Regions from separate parts of the Homo sapiens genome. Here region 2 is linked to region 1. The links come from fine-mapping of genetic effects on gene expression. A gene starts in region 1. The other region holds a variant in brackets. All regions are shown on one strand. Distances are between the middles of the regions. Region 1 holds the start of COLEC11 (collectin subfamily member 11). Region 2 overlaps COLEC11 (collectin subfamily member 11).

Evidence for each region.
Region 2: its variant is fine-mapped to the expression of COLEC11 in tibial nerve (GTEx, PIP 0.91).

Annotation. Positions count from the first base shown.
Region 1 is chr2:3,590,272-3,598,600 of GRCh38, reverse strand. It overlaps COLEC11 (collectin subfamily member 11), which reads right to left and starts at 3,489. Exons shown (of 7, transcript NM_024027.5): 1 at 3,433-3,489.
Region 2 is chr2:3,618,738-3,627,066 of GRCh38, reverse strand. All of the region lies in intron 3 of COLEC11 (collectin subfamily member 11), which reads right to left. Among named protein-coding and RNA genes, the nearest start is that of COLEC11, 28 kb to the right of the region's middle. RefSeq lists enhancers at 2,174-2,413, 2,444-2,663 and a silencer at 4,899-5,048. The variant C/G (reference allele first, on the strand shown) is at 3,274.

The DNA of each region.
Region 1 (8,329 bases):
CCAGGACCCCACCAGCTGACTTCACTCCTCCCACCTTCCTTGTTCGCTGCCAGGCTTGGGTCCACATGCAAGTGATCTGTGCAAGCTACAGCTTCGTAAAGGTCTCTGGGCACGCAGAAGCCTGCAGTTTAGCAGGCACCAAACTGAGTGAACAAGTGAATGAGTAAATAAAGGAACAAACAACAGAACGAAAGTTCACAATTGCATCGCAAATAGAGCCTTCTGCTCTTCTCCTCGTGGTGTTTCCGTGTTTCCAAATCTTTATTATATCTAATGTCTACACAGTATTTCCAGGGCAGGCAGTCTGCAGACGTGGGTTACTGCCCTGCTGTCATTGTCCTGAAATTCCTAATAATGTTGAAATGGGCCAAGCACAGTGGCTCACGTTTGTAATCCCACCACTTTGGGAGGCCGAGGTGGGTGGATCACCTGAGGTCAGGAGTTCGAGACCAGCCTGGCCAACATGGTGAAACCCTGTCTCTACTAAAAATACAAAAATTAGCTGGGCATGGTGGCGGGTGCCTGGAATTCCAGTGACTCGGGAGGCTGAGGCAGGAGAATCGCTTGAACCCGGGAGGTGGAGGTTGCAGTGAGTCGAGATCACACCACTGCCCTCTAGCCTGAGTGATAAGAGTGAGACTCAGTCTCAAAAAAATGAAATAAATAAAATAAAATAAAAATAAAAAATACAAAAATAATGTCAAAACAAGGGGCACCACAAGGTTTGTAGCCAGACGTGCTGGTCCACTGGGCTCATAACCGTAGTCTCCCCGGCTCCTGCCTCAGCAGCAGTATTTTGGCTCCTTGTGGTATGTGGCTTCTGAAAGCAATAGTAAACTCTTCCTCCCCACCCACTCAGTACGCAAGTCGAACCTCACTTCTCAGTGTTTGCTGGATGCAAACTGGGTTTAGTTTTTTTTTTTTTTAATGTCTCAGGAATCAAAGGCTGACATGGGAATTTCCCCTCTAGCTAGAAGTGATTCTGTTCAGGTATAACCAGGTGTTCAGCAAGGCTTTTACTGCCCTCACTCCGCAGATGTCCCAGGAGTGGCTTCAACAAAGATCAGGCTCCGTCTCCCAAGAAAAGGGGTGAGTAGTGAGCAGAGAAACCCAGAGCAGCCCAGGCAGGATTTCTCGTGCCTTCACTCACACTCATCTGCTGATCCCAGAGCAGCCCAGGCGGGATTTCTCGTGCCTTCACTCCATTCATCCGCTGACCCCGGAGCAGCCCAGGTGGGATTTCTCATGCCTTCACTCCATTCATTCACTGACACCAGAGCAGCCCAGGTGGGATTTCTCGTGCCTTCACTCACACTCATCTGCTGATCCCGGAGCAGCCCAGGCTGGGATTTCTCGTGCCTTCACTCCATTCATTCACTGACCCCGGAGCAGCCCAGGCCGGGATTTCTTGTGCCTTCACTCCATTCATTCACTGACCCCGGAGCAGCACAGGCTGGGATTTCTTGTGCCTTCCCTCACTTCACTCATCCACTGATCCCCGGAACAGCCCAGGCTGGGATTTCTCATGCCTTCACTCGCTCCACTCATTCACTGACCCCGCTGCCCATTCACAGAGTTTCTGTCCACTTTCCTGCGAGGGGCCCCAGCTAGGCCTATGGGCACAAAGGAGGCACAGGCCCTGCAGCGGGGCGCTCTCAGACGCACAGCAGGAACCAGGGCAGGTAGGCACAGGGTGAGGGCACCCAGGCGCCCGAAGGAGTCTCTGCTTCCCAGAGGTCTCGCCCTCTGACTGCCTTCTTAGAAGAGGAATTCCATTTTGTAAACGGAGAAGCCACAGCTACCCCCAGGACCTCTTTAAGAACAACATCCTTATCTCCCAGCCAGGGCCCAAGACGCTCAGGGCCCTCCCATCAATGGAAGGGGCAGACTTGACAAGCAGGGGAGAGGGGGTTAAACGTGGAATCCTGAGAGGAAATACATGTTATGAATGAAATAAACAATGGGGCCAGGCCCAGTGGCTCATGCCTATAATCCTAGCATTTTGGGAGGCCAAGGTGGGCAGATCACCTGGTTAGGAGTTCGAGAGCAGCCTGGCCAACATGGTGAAACCCCCCTCTCCACTAAAAAGTACAAAAATTAGCCAGGTGCCATGATGCACACCTGTAATCCCAGCTACTCAGGAAGCTGAGGCAGGATAATCGCTTGAACCTGGGAGGCGGAGGTTGCAGTGAGCCAAGACGGTGCCATTGCACTCCAGCCTGGGTGACAGAGCCAGAGTCCATCTCAAAAAAAAAAAAAAAAATGAAATAGACAATGAGAAAAAATCATGGCTTCAGTTGCCAAACATGCTATTCTACTTTTTCATTAAGTATCTACAGCAAGGCCCAGCATCTTACAGGCACCACAAATACCTCCTAAGAACCACATCCCTGAAGCATGAGGAGGTTCCTCTCACTGGGGACTGCCCCAGCCCCACCGCGGTGTTTCCCTCCCTACAGTGACAGAGCACCTTCTGGGGCAGCCTGGATTCCACCCACAACAGCACACGCTCCTCTTAGCTTCTTACCAAGAGCACAGAGTAAGAAGGCACCTATCCTCTCTTATCTTCCCCCAGCGGTCAGCACATTACCGGTGTGCTCTCTTCTACGGTACATGGATTTTTCAAAATTGTAAACAAAATCGAATAGCTGTGAAAGATTGGGGCAGTGCTCTGCCTACCACAGGCAAAGTGCTTCCCATCAAACCAAAATTCCAGCTATGCACATGAGATGGCTTTAAACGTTCATCTTTAAATTGAGAACGACCACATCACCTCAGCTCTAAAAAGACCGCCAGTTCCTAGCGCAAGGCATCCAGGTAGGAGGCAGCGGCCCTAGGAAACTTTCCTCCTTTCCAATTTTGGAGACAAGATGACCCCACTTGGTTTTAGATGACCCCATCTGAACTCAAAGTCTTTCCCTGGAAAGTTGCCAAAGCAAGGCCCACCTTTCCCCCACCTCTCTGATCCCCGTTCCTGAGCCCAACACAGAGCCACTGGTCCCTGGGGGCAGTCGTGGCTGCTGTCCGCCTGGCCCGTCAGACGCTGCTCAGGCTCAGGAACAATCGTCAGGTTGTGAGACCAGGTACTGCACTGCGGTTTGGAATTAGCGAAGACTGTTTAGCCCCCTGGGCCTTGGGCTGTTTGAAATCTGCCACCCAAGAGGGTGACTCCATCATCCAGCACCTCTCATGGGTCGGATCCCATCTCATCAATAGGCTCCACGAATTTCCGCCATGAACTAATCAAACTTTGGAACTCTGGTGCCAGATTTATTGAGACTCAATCTTTTGCCTGGATCTAGGGACAGATTCCCATCCTCCTCGCTCAGCAGGAGCCCACCTCGCGCCCAGTTTGGAAGCCTGCCTGCCTCCCCTCTGCACTGTCATAGCCCCGTGAAACCCTCAGCTGCAGCCCCGGGCAGAGTCTCCTACCTGAGCACGCGCTAGGCGAACGGGGCGTCCTGCCCGTCGCTGGCCCGCGAGGACACTGCCCCCAGGCGCCTCATGGCTGCTATTTAGAGAGGCGGCCGCAGTCCCAGGCGCAGGGAGAAGCCTCGGCCCGGGCCATCAGACAGCCCAGCAAATCAGGCCGCCCGGCCGCAGCGTTATCTCGGGGAGCTTCCTGTCTGCGCTGCGTCCACCGTCCTGCCTGGGGAGTGTGGGAACGCCTGGAACTCCCTGAGGCCGGCTTTGGGGTGGGGGGCAGGACCCTCCTGGAGATGCCCCTGCTAACTCTCCAACCCGAACATCCCAATTTTGTTTCTTTTTTGGCTTTCTCTTCTTTCTTTTCGTTTTTTGAAAAAATAAGCATGACTACTGTGGAAATTCAAAAGAGCATAAAGAGGAGGGACGCTCATCACCTGGCACCAATCAGACAGAAACGAGGGCAGCTGACTGATCTCCTTTCCTTTGTTCATATGGGATTTCGCTTCAAAAGTCAGCAAGAGCTTGACCACGGCCTGTGGAGACCTGGCCACACGTGAGTCCGGAAACTCACTCTACGCATTTAAGTTTCATTTAAAGGCAAGTTTCATTTAATGCCAGAAACAAATGTTAGTCAGGGGCTGGACAGATCCAGCTTCTATGCAGCCCGAATCTTGCATGTTTTGGGGGATAGCGGAACCTTCTTTAAGAAAAAGATACATATAAAATTACAATCATAAGAAGCTAGGTTCAAAGGTGAATATTTATTTAGACTGAGAAATCATAAAATAAAACTGTAAAAACACAAATTCCACACACATAATAAAATTAAGGAAAAATAATGGATTCTTTATTTAAAACGTATTATTGAAGTTATACATAAATTTGACAACTTAGACAAAATGAACCACTTCTTGAAAACACGAACTACAACATGCCCAGCATGAAACAGATAATTCAACAGCCCTATGCCAAGGAAGGGAATTGAACTTGCAATTTAAACGCTCCCCAGAAAGACATTTCAGGGCCAGATGGTTTCACAGGAGGGTCTACAAAACGTTTAAAGAAAAATTAACACCAATTCTACACATCCTCTTCCAGAAAATAGAAGAGGAGGGAATATTTACCAATTCATTTTATAAAGTTGATTATTACCCTGATACCAAAACCAGACAAAGACAGAACAAAAACACTATAGACCAATAACCCTCATGAATATAGATGAGAAAATCCTTAATAAAATATTAACAGACAGAATTCAGCAATATAGAAAAAGATTTATCAACTATGACCAAATGGGGTTTCATCCAGGAATGTGAGGCTATGTCAATATTCAAAGCTCCTTTGATAAAAACCCATTAACAAGCTAACAAAGAAAATCAAATGAATATCTCAATTTATATAGAAACAGCATTTGGCATAAACCAACACCTTTCATGATAAAAACTCTCAGAAAAATAGGTGCAGGGGACCTTCCTCAACTTGATAAAGAGCATCTGTCAAAGGCAAAGCCACAGCTAACATCATACTTCATGGGCAAAAATGGAATGTTTCCTTCCTGAGATCAAGACAAGGCAAGGGTGTCCACTCTTACCTCTTACTCAATGCAGTGCTAAAGTTCTAGGCACACCAGCAGGGCCCGAAAAGGAAATAAACAGCATGTAGATTCGAAAAATAAAATAACTCTGTCCCTTGTTGCAGATGACATGGTTGTCTACTTAGAAAATCCCAGAGTCTACAAAAGAGCTCCTGGAAACTATTAAATCAGTGTGACAGGTGACAGGATACAAGGCAAACATTTAAAAAACCAAGTAGGCCAGGCGTGGTGGCTCACACCTGTAATCCCAGCACTTCGGGAGGCCAAGGTGGGAGGATCACCTGAGGTCAGGAGTTAGAGACCAGCCTGGCCAACAAGGCAAAACCCCATCTCTACTAAAAATACAAAAATCAGCCAGGCATGGTGGTACATGCCTGCAATCCCAGCTACTCGGGAGGCTGACGCAGGAGAATCACTTGACTCCGGGAGGCAGAGGGTGCAGTGAGTTGAGGTTGTGCCATTGCACTCCAGCCTGGGTGACAGAGCGAGACTCTGTCTCAAAAAAATAATAAACAATGAAAAACCAAGCAGATTTCTATAAAATAACAATGAACTCATAGACACCAAAATTCAAAATAATATCATTTACAATTGCTTTAAAAAAGGAATACTTAGGTGTAAATCTAACAAAACATATATAGAACTTACATGCTGAAAACTACAAAATGCTGCTGAAAACCTCAAAAAAGATCTGAATAAACAGAGAAACACGTCGTCTTCATAGATTAGGAGACTCACCCCAAGCACAGTGGCTCATGCCTGTAATCCCAGCATTTTGCAGGGCTGAAGTGGGAGGATCACTTGAGTCCAAGAGTTCAAGACCAGCTTGGGCAACATGGTGAAACCCTGTCTCTAACAAAAACAATACAAAAATTAGCCGGGCATAGTAGAATGGTCCCAGCTACTCAGGAGGCTGAGGTGGAAGGATCACTTGAGCCCGGGAGGTGGATGTTGCAGTTAGCTGAGATCGCACCACTGCACCCCAGCCTGGGTGACAGAGTGGGACCCTGTTTCAAAAATAATAAAATGAAAATTAAAAAGTATAGATTGGGAGACTCAACAGAGTAAAAATGTTGATTCTCCCCCAAGTTAATATACAGTACAAGCTTAACACAATTTCTATCAAAATCATAACAATAATTTTTGTAGATATAGACACGGCTATTCTAAAGTGTATATGAAAAGAGAAAGGAACTAGAATAGCTAAAACAATTTTGAAAAAGAATAAAATAGGAGGAATCAGCTCTCCGTCTCCGTCTCCGTCTCCGTCTCCGTCCCCGTCCCCGTCCCCGTCCCCGTCCCCGTCCCCGTCCCCGTCTCCGTCTCCCTCCATGGTCTCCTTCCACGGTCTCCCTCTGATGCCGAGCCAAGGCTGGACGGTGCTGCTGCCATCTCGGCTCACTGCAGCCTCCCTGCCTGATTCTCCTGCCTCAGCCTGCTGAGTGCCTGCGATTGCAGGCGCACGCCGCCACGCCTCACTGGTTTTCGTTTTTTTTTTTGGTGGAGACGGGGTTTTGCTGTGTTGGCCGGGCTGGTCTCCAGCTCCTAGCCGCGAGTGATCCGCCAGCCTCGGCCTCCCGGGGTGCCGGGATTGCGGACGGAGTCTCGTTCACTCAGTGCTCAGTGGTGCCCAGGCTGGAGTGCAGTGGCGTGATCTCGGCTCGCTACAGCCTCCACCTCCCAGCCGCCTGCCTTGGCCCCCCAAAGTGCCGAGATTGCAGCCTCTGCCCAGCCGCCACCCCGTCTGGGAAGTGAGGAGCGTCTCTGCTTGGCCACCCATCGTCTGGGATATGAGGAGCCTCTCTGCCTGGCTGCCCAGTCTGGAAAGTGAGGAGCGTCTCTGCCCGGCCGCCATCCCATCTAGGAAGCGAGGAGCGCCTCTTCCCCGCCGCCTTCCCATCTAGGAAGTGAGGAGCGTCTCTGCCCGGCCGCCCATCGTCTGAGATGTGGGGAGCACCTCTGCCCCGCCGCCCTGTCTGGGATGTGAGGAGCGCCTCTGCTGGCCGCAACCCTATCTGGGAGGTGAGGAGCGTCTCTGCCCGGCCGCCCCGTCTGAGAAGTGAGGAAACCCTCTGCCTGGCAACCGCCCCGTCTGAGAAGTGAGGAGCCCCTCCGTCCGGCAGCCACCCCGTCTGGGAAGTGAGGAGCGTCTCCGCCCGGCAGCCACCCCGTCCGGGAGGGAGGTGGGGGGGGTCAGCCCCCCGCCCGGCCAGCCGCCCCATCCGGGAGGTGAGGGGCTCCTCTGCCCGGCCGCCCCTACTGGGAAGTGAGGAGCCCCTCTGCCTGGCCAGTCGCCCCGTCCAGGAGGGAGGTGGGGGGGTCAGCCCCCCGCCCGGCCAGCCGCCCAGTCCGGGAGGTGAGGGGCGCCTCTGCCCGGCCGCCCCTACTGGGAAGTGAGGAGCCCCTCTGCCCGGCCAGCCGCCCCGTCCGGGAGGGGGGAGGGGGGGTCAGCCCCCTGCCCGGCCAGCCGCCCCGTCCGGGAGGGAGGTGGGGGGGTCAGCCCCCCGCCCGGCCGGCCGCCCCGTCCGGGAGGTGAGGGGCGCCTCTGCCCCGCCGCCCCTACTGGGAAGTGAGGACCCCTCTGCCCAGCCAGCCGCCCCGTCCGGGAGGGAGGTGGGGGGGTCAGCCCCCCGCCCGGCCAGCCGCCCAGTCCGGGAGGGAGGTGGGGGGATCAGCCCCCCGCCCGGCCAGCCGCCCCGTCCGGGAGGGAGGTGGGGGGGTCAGCCCCCCGCCCGGCCAGCCGCCCAGTCCGGGAGGGAGGTGGGGGGATCAGCCCCCCGCTCGGCCAGCCGCCCCGTCCGGGAGGGAGGTGGGGGGGTCAGCCCCCCGCCTGGCCAGCCGCCCCATCCGGGAGGGAGGTGGGGGGTCAGCCCCCCACCTGGCCAGCCGCCCCGTCCGGGAGGGAGGTGGGGGGGGTCAGCCCCCCGCCTGGCCAGCCGCCCCGTCCGGGAGGTGAGGGGCGCCTCTGCCCGGCCGCCCCTACTGGGAAGTGAGGAGCCCCTCTGCCCGGCCAGCCGCCCCGTCCGGGAGGGAGGTGGGGGGGTCAGCCCCCCGCCCGGCCAGCCGCCCCGTCCGGGAGGGAGGTGGGGGGGGTCAGCCCCCCGCCCGACCAGCCGCCCCGTCCGGGAGGGAGGTGGGGGGATCAGCCCCCCGCCTGGCCAGCCGCCCCGTCCGGGAGGTGAGGGGCGCCTCTGCCCGGCCGCCCCTACTGGGAAGTGAGGAACCCCTCTGCCCTGCTTGAAGGCAGCATGCTCGTTAAGAGTCATCACCACTCCCTAATCTTAAGTACCCAGGGACACAAACACTGCG
Region 2 (8,329 bases), 28 kb before region 1:
TGCCCCCGCTGCAACGAGCTAGAAAGCTATCCACTAGCACCCAGCTAGCAAGCCCACGGGCAGAAGAGCCAGTGGGCCAGGGGAGTTGGCAGGGCTGTGTCCCACTGGAAAGTGAGACTCCAGGGAGGGTGTGGAGGGTGGTGGCGGCTGAGGTCCTGGTTCCCAGCCCATCTGCGCCCCCTGGGGCCCGGGCACCGCCTACCACACAGGCAGAGCGCCCAGGGTGTCCTAGGTCTCAGGGAGGAGATTCATCCCAGGTTGTGTATAAAAAGTCCTAAGTTTATTCCATTCTCTCTTTGACCTAATGTCCTTGTAAACATATTCCATTCTCTCTTTGACCTAATGTCCTTGAGAATAAACATTATCCAGAACAGAGCACTTACAGCTGACGGAAACAGCCACGATTATCAGAAAGAATGTCAGTTGGTTATTGCAGAGGCCGGAAGTCATGCTCATTCCCTAGTGAGTTCCCATGAACAAAAGCACCAGGGCTCAGACTTTCTTCTGTGCAAACGGAGAATAATAACAGCAACCACCAGGCCACCAGGCACCAGGCAACTGCCGCATCCAAGACATTGTGCGTCTATCCTTCCATTTAACCCTTCTGGGAGTCATGGGAGGTAGATCCCCACCCCCCACCCCCCATTTTACAGGTACAGAAAAAGGGGGCTTGGGAAGACGAAGCTGATTCCAGAAGCTGACATAACTGACAGGTGGTGGAGCCACGATACAGACAGGCCCAGCGAGCCCAGGACTGTCTGGTTCCACGTCTGTGGTCTCTGCACTGCTCAGCTGAGGCTGGGACCGCATTGTGCCTAACAATATTCCTCCCTCCCAGCAAACCACGTCCATCTAGAAATGGGGCTTCTGCTCCAGTTCTGTCCAAGCCATGTGGCCATGGGAAGAGTGGTTGCCTATTCTCTGCATCTCAGGGTCCAACTTAAGTGTGAAGGTGGGATTTCCAGATCCATTACCCTGTGATCCCATTTCTACAAAGGACGAGGTGCACTTCCTTTTGGAGATGTCAGAAGCTGTCACGACTGGCTGTGACTGCTGGAAAAAGTAAATACAATGTTATGACTATCCCTGCCTGACAACTCAGATAATAGAGATGTTAAATAACTTTGCAAAGTCTGCCAGGTATGGCGGCTCATGCCTATAATCCCGGCACTTTGGGAGGCCAAGGTAGGCGGATCTCTTGAGGTCAGGAGTTCAAGACCAGTGTGGCCAATGTGGTGAAACCCCGTCTCCACTAAAAATACAAAAATTAGCCGGGCGTGGTGGTGGGCGCCTGTAATCCCAGATACTCAGGAGGCTGAGGCAGGAGAATCACTTGAACCCGGGAGGCAGAGGTTGTAGTGAGCCAAGATTATGCCACTGTACTCCAGCCTTGACAACAGAGCGAGAGTGAGACTCTGTCTCAAAAAAAAAAAAAAAAAAAGTAAAAAAGAAGAAAAGAAACTTTCCAAACTCATGGGTCCAAGCTGAGGCACAGAGTAGACCCCTGAGTGCTAAACGCCCCTCCCCTAAGCTGACTCCCTGGGATGCCAAATGCCACATCCCTTTATGGACTCCTAGCCCTCCCTGTCTCCAGATTTCAGAAACCCTGAATTACGAGTAGCCTCCCGAGTGCCTTCCCTAACCCCCGCCCTGGGCTGGGTCCATGGCCCCCCACCCACCACAAGGCAGCCAAGAACGCTGTCTCAGCAGTCGCTGTCCTGCACATCCTGCCTCAGGCTCACCCTCCATCCGTGCCCACCCCTCAGCAGGGACCTGAGGCCTGCTTGAGCATGGAAGCCTGACCTACACCTGAACATCAGTGGGGACAGGCCTCGGAGCCTGAAAAAGCCTGCTGCCACTTCTAAGTGGGAGAAGGAAGGAAGAAAGGAGGGAGGGAGAAGGGAATTCCTCAGAGGTTTTAATAGAGAATCCTTGCCGCCTTGGATCAGCAAACCATTGTGTTTGTGGATCCTTTGATTAAGATTCTTTAAGAGGTAGAAATGAAAAGAGTCTATCAGACTTTAACCCCATATCTCTGGGGTAGTCAATGTATGTTTAATGACCCTCTGTAAATCTATCAATCTAATACTTAGGAATAACTACTATATCAGGGACTTGGAACCACTTACTCGCAGGATGGCAGAGTGTGATCCACAAATCCCTACCCTTGAGGAATGTATAATCTAATTAGGAAGACAAGACATGCACACATGGGTGATGTTAGGAGGATGGCAGAAGAGGAGCTTTCTACCATAGTCCCCCCAAAGAAGCTTCCATGTTGACAACTCCCCATGAACAAAAGTGTCTTTGTAGGAGTCTGGAAGTCCAGTGGAGAAGTTCCAGCACACTGTTAGAGAAAAAAATCCAAGAATAGATGCACTGATGAGGGTAAGAACAGTTTCACTTTACCCGTGTGACCGTTTCCCACAACTGTAAGCTGAGCAACTGTGAGCTGAGCAACACAGCTCAGTGCCCAGGGAAACCCCCTTGGCCCATGTTTTTTCCCACTGGAGTAAGTGAAAGTGTAGTAAGTGAGCTTCCAGCTCCCCCAGCCATGCAGGATGCTGCCCAAAAAAAGTCTGCTTCTTTCTTGTCTCACCTCCAATACTGAGGTGACTGACATGGAGGAGAAGTTGGGAGAGACTGGGAGCTAGGAAGAAAGGCTATGGACCCTAATAATTGCTCTGCAGATTTTATTAGGAAGCCCCCCAACAAGCTGATGGAGACGCCTTTCCTGTGAACCATCCCAACTGGACCACGGGCACCCAAATGCTCACATGCTTCACCCAACACTCTGCCAGCTCCCCAAAGGCACCCCCACAGATGGCAAGTGCCAGCATCTCACACAGACAGATAGCTTGACTGTGTGGGATGGGGAGGGAGAAGGCACAAGAACTTGAGCATTTCAGAGCACTGCCCTAGGGGAAACTAATGAGAGGCTAGTAGCACCTAGACTGCCTTTGTGGGATCAAGAAAAGGCATATACTCTTTAAAAATTCACCCCTCTCCAAGAGAAGCAAAAGGTGTGGAGCAGGTGCATCCACAGAAATGGTCTGAGAGAGCCTCAGAATCCCTAGCCAGGCTGTTTTGTAAAGAAATCTCTCTCCCAAAAAAAGTCCATAAAGACTAGAGGAGGTGACTGCTTTTGCAAATGAGAAAACAGCAATGCAAGACTTCAAGGAATATAAAGTATCAAGGAAACATGACATTACCAAAGGAACACAATAATACTCTAGTAAACCAATCCCAAAGAAATGGAGATCTACAAATTGC[C/G]TAACAAAGAACTCAAAATAATCATTTTAAGGAAGCTCAATGAGATACAAGAGAACATAGACACACAACTCAACAAAATCAGAAAAACAATACATTAAAAATGAGGAATTCAATGAAGAGATAGAGATTTTTTTTTAAAAAAAGAACCAAACAGAAACTCTAAAGCTGAAGAACAGAATGAATAAAATTTAAAATACAGCAGACAGCATCAAGAGCAGAATTGATCAAACAAAAGAAAAGAAAGAATATGTGAGCTTGATGACAGGTCATTTAAAAATATTCAATCAGAGAAGAGAAAAGAAAAAAGGCATTAAAAGAAATTAAGAAAGCCTGTGAGATCTAAAGGACACCATCAAGAAAGCTAACATTCACATTATGGAAGTTGTATTAGGAGAATATAGAGAGAAGCTAATAGAAAGCTTATTTAAAGAATTAATGCCTAAAAAACTTTCCAAACTTGGGAGTGATGTGGACATCAAGGTACATGAAGCTTAAAGTCTCCAAATAGGTTCAACCCACAGAAAACTTCACCAAGATACATTATAATCAAACTACCATAAATCAAAGACGAGAAGAGAATTTTGAAAGCAGAAAGAGAAAAGAAACTCATCACATCCAAGAGAACCCTCATAAGGCTATCAGCAGACTTCTCAGCAGAAAACTTGCAGGCCAGGAGAAAGTGGGATCATATATTCAAAGTACTGAAAGAAAAAAACTGGCAATAAGATTATGTACTCACAAAGCCATCCTTCAAAAATAAAGGAAACATTAAGAGTCTCCCAGATACACAAAAGCTAAAGAAGTTCCCACTAGACTTCCCTTACAAGAAATGTAAAGGAAAGTTCTTCAAGCTGAAACAAAAGGATGCTAATTAGTAACATGAAAACATTTAAAAGTGTAGAGATAACTGATAAAACTATATACTTGCCTTAGTCTGTTTTCTGTTGCCATTACTGAATATCTGTGACTGGGTAATTTATAAAGAAAAGAAATTCTTTTTTACAGTTCTAGAGGCTGGGAAATCCAAGGTCAAGAGGCCACATCTGATGAGAACTCTCCACAGAGTCTTGAGGTAGCACAGGGCATCACACAGTAAGGAGGCCCACGAGAGAGGCCACCTGGCTTTTATAATAGTCCCACTCTCATGATAACTAACCCACTCCTGTAATAACCCATTAATCTATTAACTCATAAATGGATCAATCCATTCATAATGTCAGAGAACTCATGATCCAGTCACCTCCTAAAGGCCCACTCTCTCAATACTATTACATTAAAGATCAAGTTTCAACGTGAGTTTTGGAGGGGGCAAACATTCAAATGATAGCAATAGTCAAATTCAGAATACTCTGATGGTGTAATGGTTATGTGTAAATCATATATAACTCTAGTATAAAGGTTAAAAGACAAAGATATTAAAATAACTATAGCCACAATAATTTGTTGTTGTTGTTTGTTTGTTTTTAGAGACAGGGTTTCACTCTCTCACCCAGGCTGGAGTGCAGTGACATCATCATAGCTCACTGCAGCCTCCAGATCCTGGGCTCAAACAATCCTCCTGCCTCAGCCGAGACTACAGGCACATACCACCCAGCTAATATATTTTACTTTTTTTTTTTTTTTTTGAGATGGAGTCTCATTCTGTCGCCCAGGCTGGAGCGCGGTGGCACAATCTCAGCTCACTGCAAGCTCCACCTCCCGGGTTCAAGCGATTCTCCTGCCTCAGCCTCCTGAGTAGCTAGGACTACAGGCGAGCACCCGGCTAATTTTTGTATTTTTAGTAGAGACGAGGTTTCACCATGCTGGCCAGGCTGGTCTTGAACTCCTGACCTCGTGATCCACCCGCCTCAGCCTCCCAAAGTGCCAGGATTACAGGTGTGAGCCACTGCACCTGGCCCAATGATTTGTTAATAGATGTACAATAAAAAAGATGTAAATTGTGATATCAAAAACATAAAATGGGGGGTGGGTGTAAAAGTGTAGAATTTTGTGTGTGATCAAAGTTAAGTTGTTATTAGTTTAGCATAGACTGTTATAACTATAAAATGTTTTATATAAGCCTTGTGGTAACCACAAATAAAAAACCTAGTACATACACAAAAGAAAGAAAAAGGAATCAATGCATACTACTACAGAAAATTATCAAACCACAAAGGAAAACAGCAAGAGAGGAAGAAGGAAACAAAGGATCTACCAAGTGACCAGAAAACAATTAACAAAATGGCAATGGCAAATCCTTAACTATCAATAATTACTTTAAATGTAAATAGATTAAATTATCCAATCAAAAGACACGGAGTAGCTTAATAAAAATAAATAAATAAAAAGAAGACCCAACTATATACACTGCCTACAAAAGACACACTTCAGCTTTAAGATCACACATAGACTAAAAATGAAGGGATGGAAAAAGATATTCCACACAAATTGAAACCAAAACAGAATAGGCGTAGCTATATTTATTTTATATCAGACAAAATAGACTATGTCAAAAACTGTAGCCAAGAGTAAAAAAGGGTTTTTATATAATGATAAAAGGTCAATTCATCAAGAAAACATAATCATTACAAATATACACACATTCAACATTGGAGCACCTAAATATGTAAAGCAAATATTAACAGATCTGAAGGGCAAACAGATAGAATACACTAATAGTAGGGGACTTCAATACCTCACTTTCAACAATGGAAAGATCACCCAGACAGAAAATCAGTAAGAAAACATTGTACATAAACTACACTTTAGACCGAATGGAGCTAACAGAGAACATTCCATCCAACAGCAGCAGAAAACACATTCCTCTCCAGTGCACACGGAACATTCTTTGAGATAGCTCATACGTTAGGCCACAAAACAAGTCTTAACAAATTCAAGGAGACTGAAATCATATCAAGCGTCTCTTCTAACCACAACAGGATAAAACTAGGAATCAGCAAGAGGAGGAAAACGAAAATTCACAAATACGAGAAAATTAAACAACACATTCCTGAACAATCCATGAGTCAAAAAAGAAATCAAAAAATATCTTGAAACAAATGAAAATGAAAACACAACATACAAAAACTTATGGGCTACAGCAAAAAGATATTCTAAGAGGAAATTTTATAACAATAAATACCTACATGGAGGGAAAATAAAGATTACAAATAAACAATCTAACTTTACACCATAAGGGACTAGAAAAAAACAAGCAAATGAAGCCCAAAGTTAGCAGAAGTAAGGAAATAACGAAGATCAGAGCAGAAATAATCAAAGAGAGACTAGAAAAGCTGTAGCAAAGCGACAAAACTAAGAGTTGCTTTTTGAAAAGGCAAAAAAAAAAATTGACGAACCTTTAGCTAGACGAAGAAAAAAGAGGTAACTCAAATAAAATCAGAAATGCAATGGAGAAATTACAACTGATACCACAGAAATATGAAGGGTCATAAGAGAGTAATACGAATAATTATACATCAAAAATTTGAATAACCTAGAAGAAATGGATAAATTCCTAGAAACATACAACCCACAAAGACTGAATAATGAAAAAATACTAAATTTGAACAGATCTGTAATGAGACTGATTCTGTAGTCAAAAATCTCCAATCGAAGAAAGGCCCAGGACCTGGTAGCCTCATGCCAAACTTTACCAAAAATTTAAATAGGAATTAATACCAATCCTTCTAAAATCTTACAAAAAATTGAAGAGGAGAGAATACTTCTGAACTAATTTTTAAAAGCCAGCATTACCCTGATACCAAAGCCAGACAAGAACAATACAAGAAAAAAAGATTACAGGCCAATATCCCTGATGAACACAGATGCAAAAATCTTCAACACAATGCTAGCAAACCAAATTTAACAGCACATTAAAAAGATTATACACGGCCGGGAGCGGTGGCTCATGCTTGTAATCCCAGCACTTTGGGAGGCCAAGGCAGGTGGATCACCTGAGGTCAGGATTTCAAGACCAGCCTGGCCAACATGGTGAAACCTCATCTCTACTAAAAATACAAAAATTTGCTGAGCGTGGTGGTGCGTGCCTGTAATCCCAGCTACTTGGGCGGCTGAGGCAGGAGAATCGGTTGAACTCAGGAGGCGGAGGTTGCAGTGAGCCGAGATCATGCCATTGCACTCCAGCCTGGGCAACAGAGCAAGACTCCGTCTCAAAAACAAAAGTATTATACACCATGATCAAGCAAAATTTATGCCTGGGATGGTTCAACATACAGAAATCAATAAATGTGATATGCCACATTAACAGAATGAAGAATAAACATCATATTATCATCAGTAGATGCTGAAAGAACGTTTGACAAAACTCAGTGTTGTTTCATGATAAAAGCTCTCAAGAAAGCACATATACAAAGAATGCACCTCAACACAATAAAGGCCATGTATGAGAAGTCCACAGCTAACATCATACTCACTGGTGAAAAGCTGAAAGCTTTACTCTAAAATCAGAAACAAGGCAAGGATGCCCATTCTCGCCTCTTGTATTCAATATAGTGCTGGAAGTCCTAGCCAGAACAATTAGGCAAGAAAGAAAAAAGGAAAGTGGAAAGGAGAGAAAAGGAAAGGGGAAAGGAAAGAAAAGGAAAGAGAGAAAGAAAGGAAGAGAAAGGGAGAGGGAGGGAGGGAGGCGGGAAAGAAGGAGGGAGGGATCCATCCAAATTGGAAAGGGAGAGGTAAAGCTGGCTCTGTTTGCAGATGGCATAATCTTATATAAATAAAACCCTAAAGACTCCACTAAAAACTGGTTAGCACTAATAAACAAATTCAGTAAAGTTGCAGGATACAAAATCAACACACGAAAATCAGCAGCATTTCTATACACTAACAATGAGCCACCTGAAAAAAATTAAGGAAACAATCTCCTTGACTGTAGCACCAAACAGAATGACATATTTAGGAATAAATTTAACCAAGGAAGTGTTGTGTACCTGTACACTGAGAACTATGAAACATTGAAGACACAAATAAATGGAAAAAATATCTGTTCGTGGATCAAAAGAATTAATATTTCAAAATGTCCATACTACCCAATGCAATCTACAGATTCAGTGCAATCTCT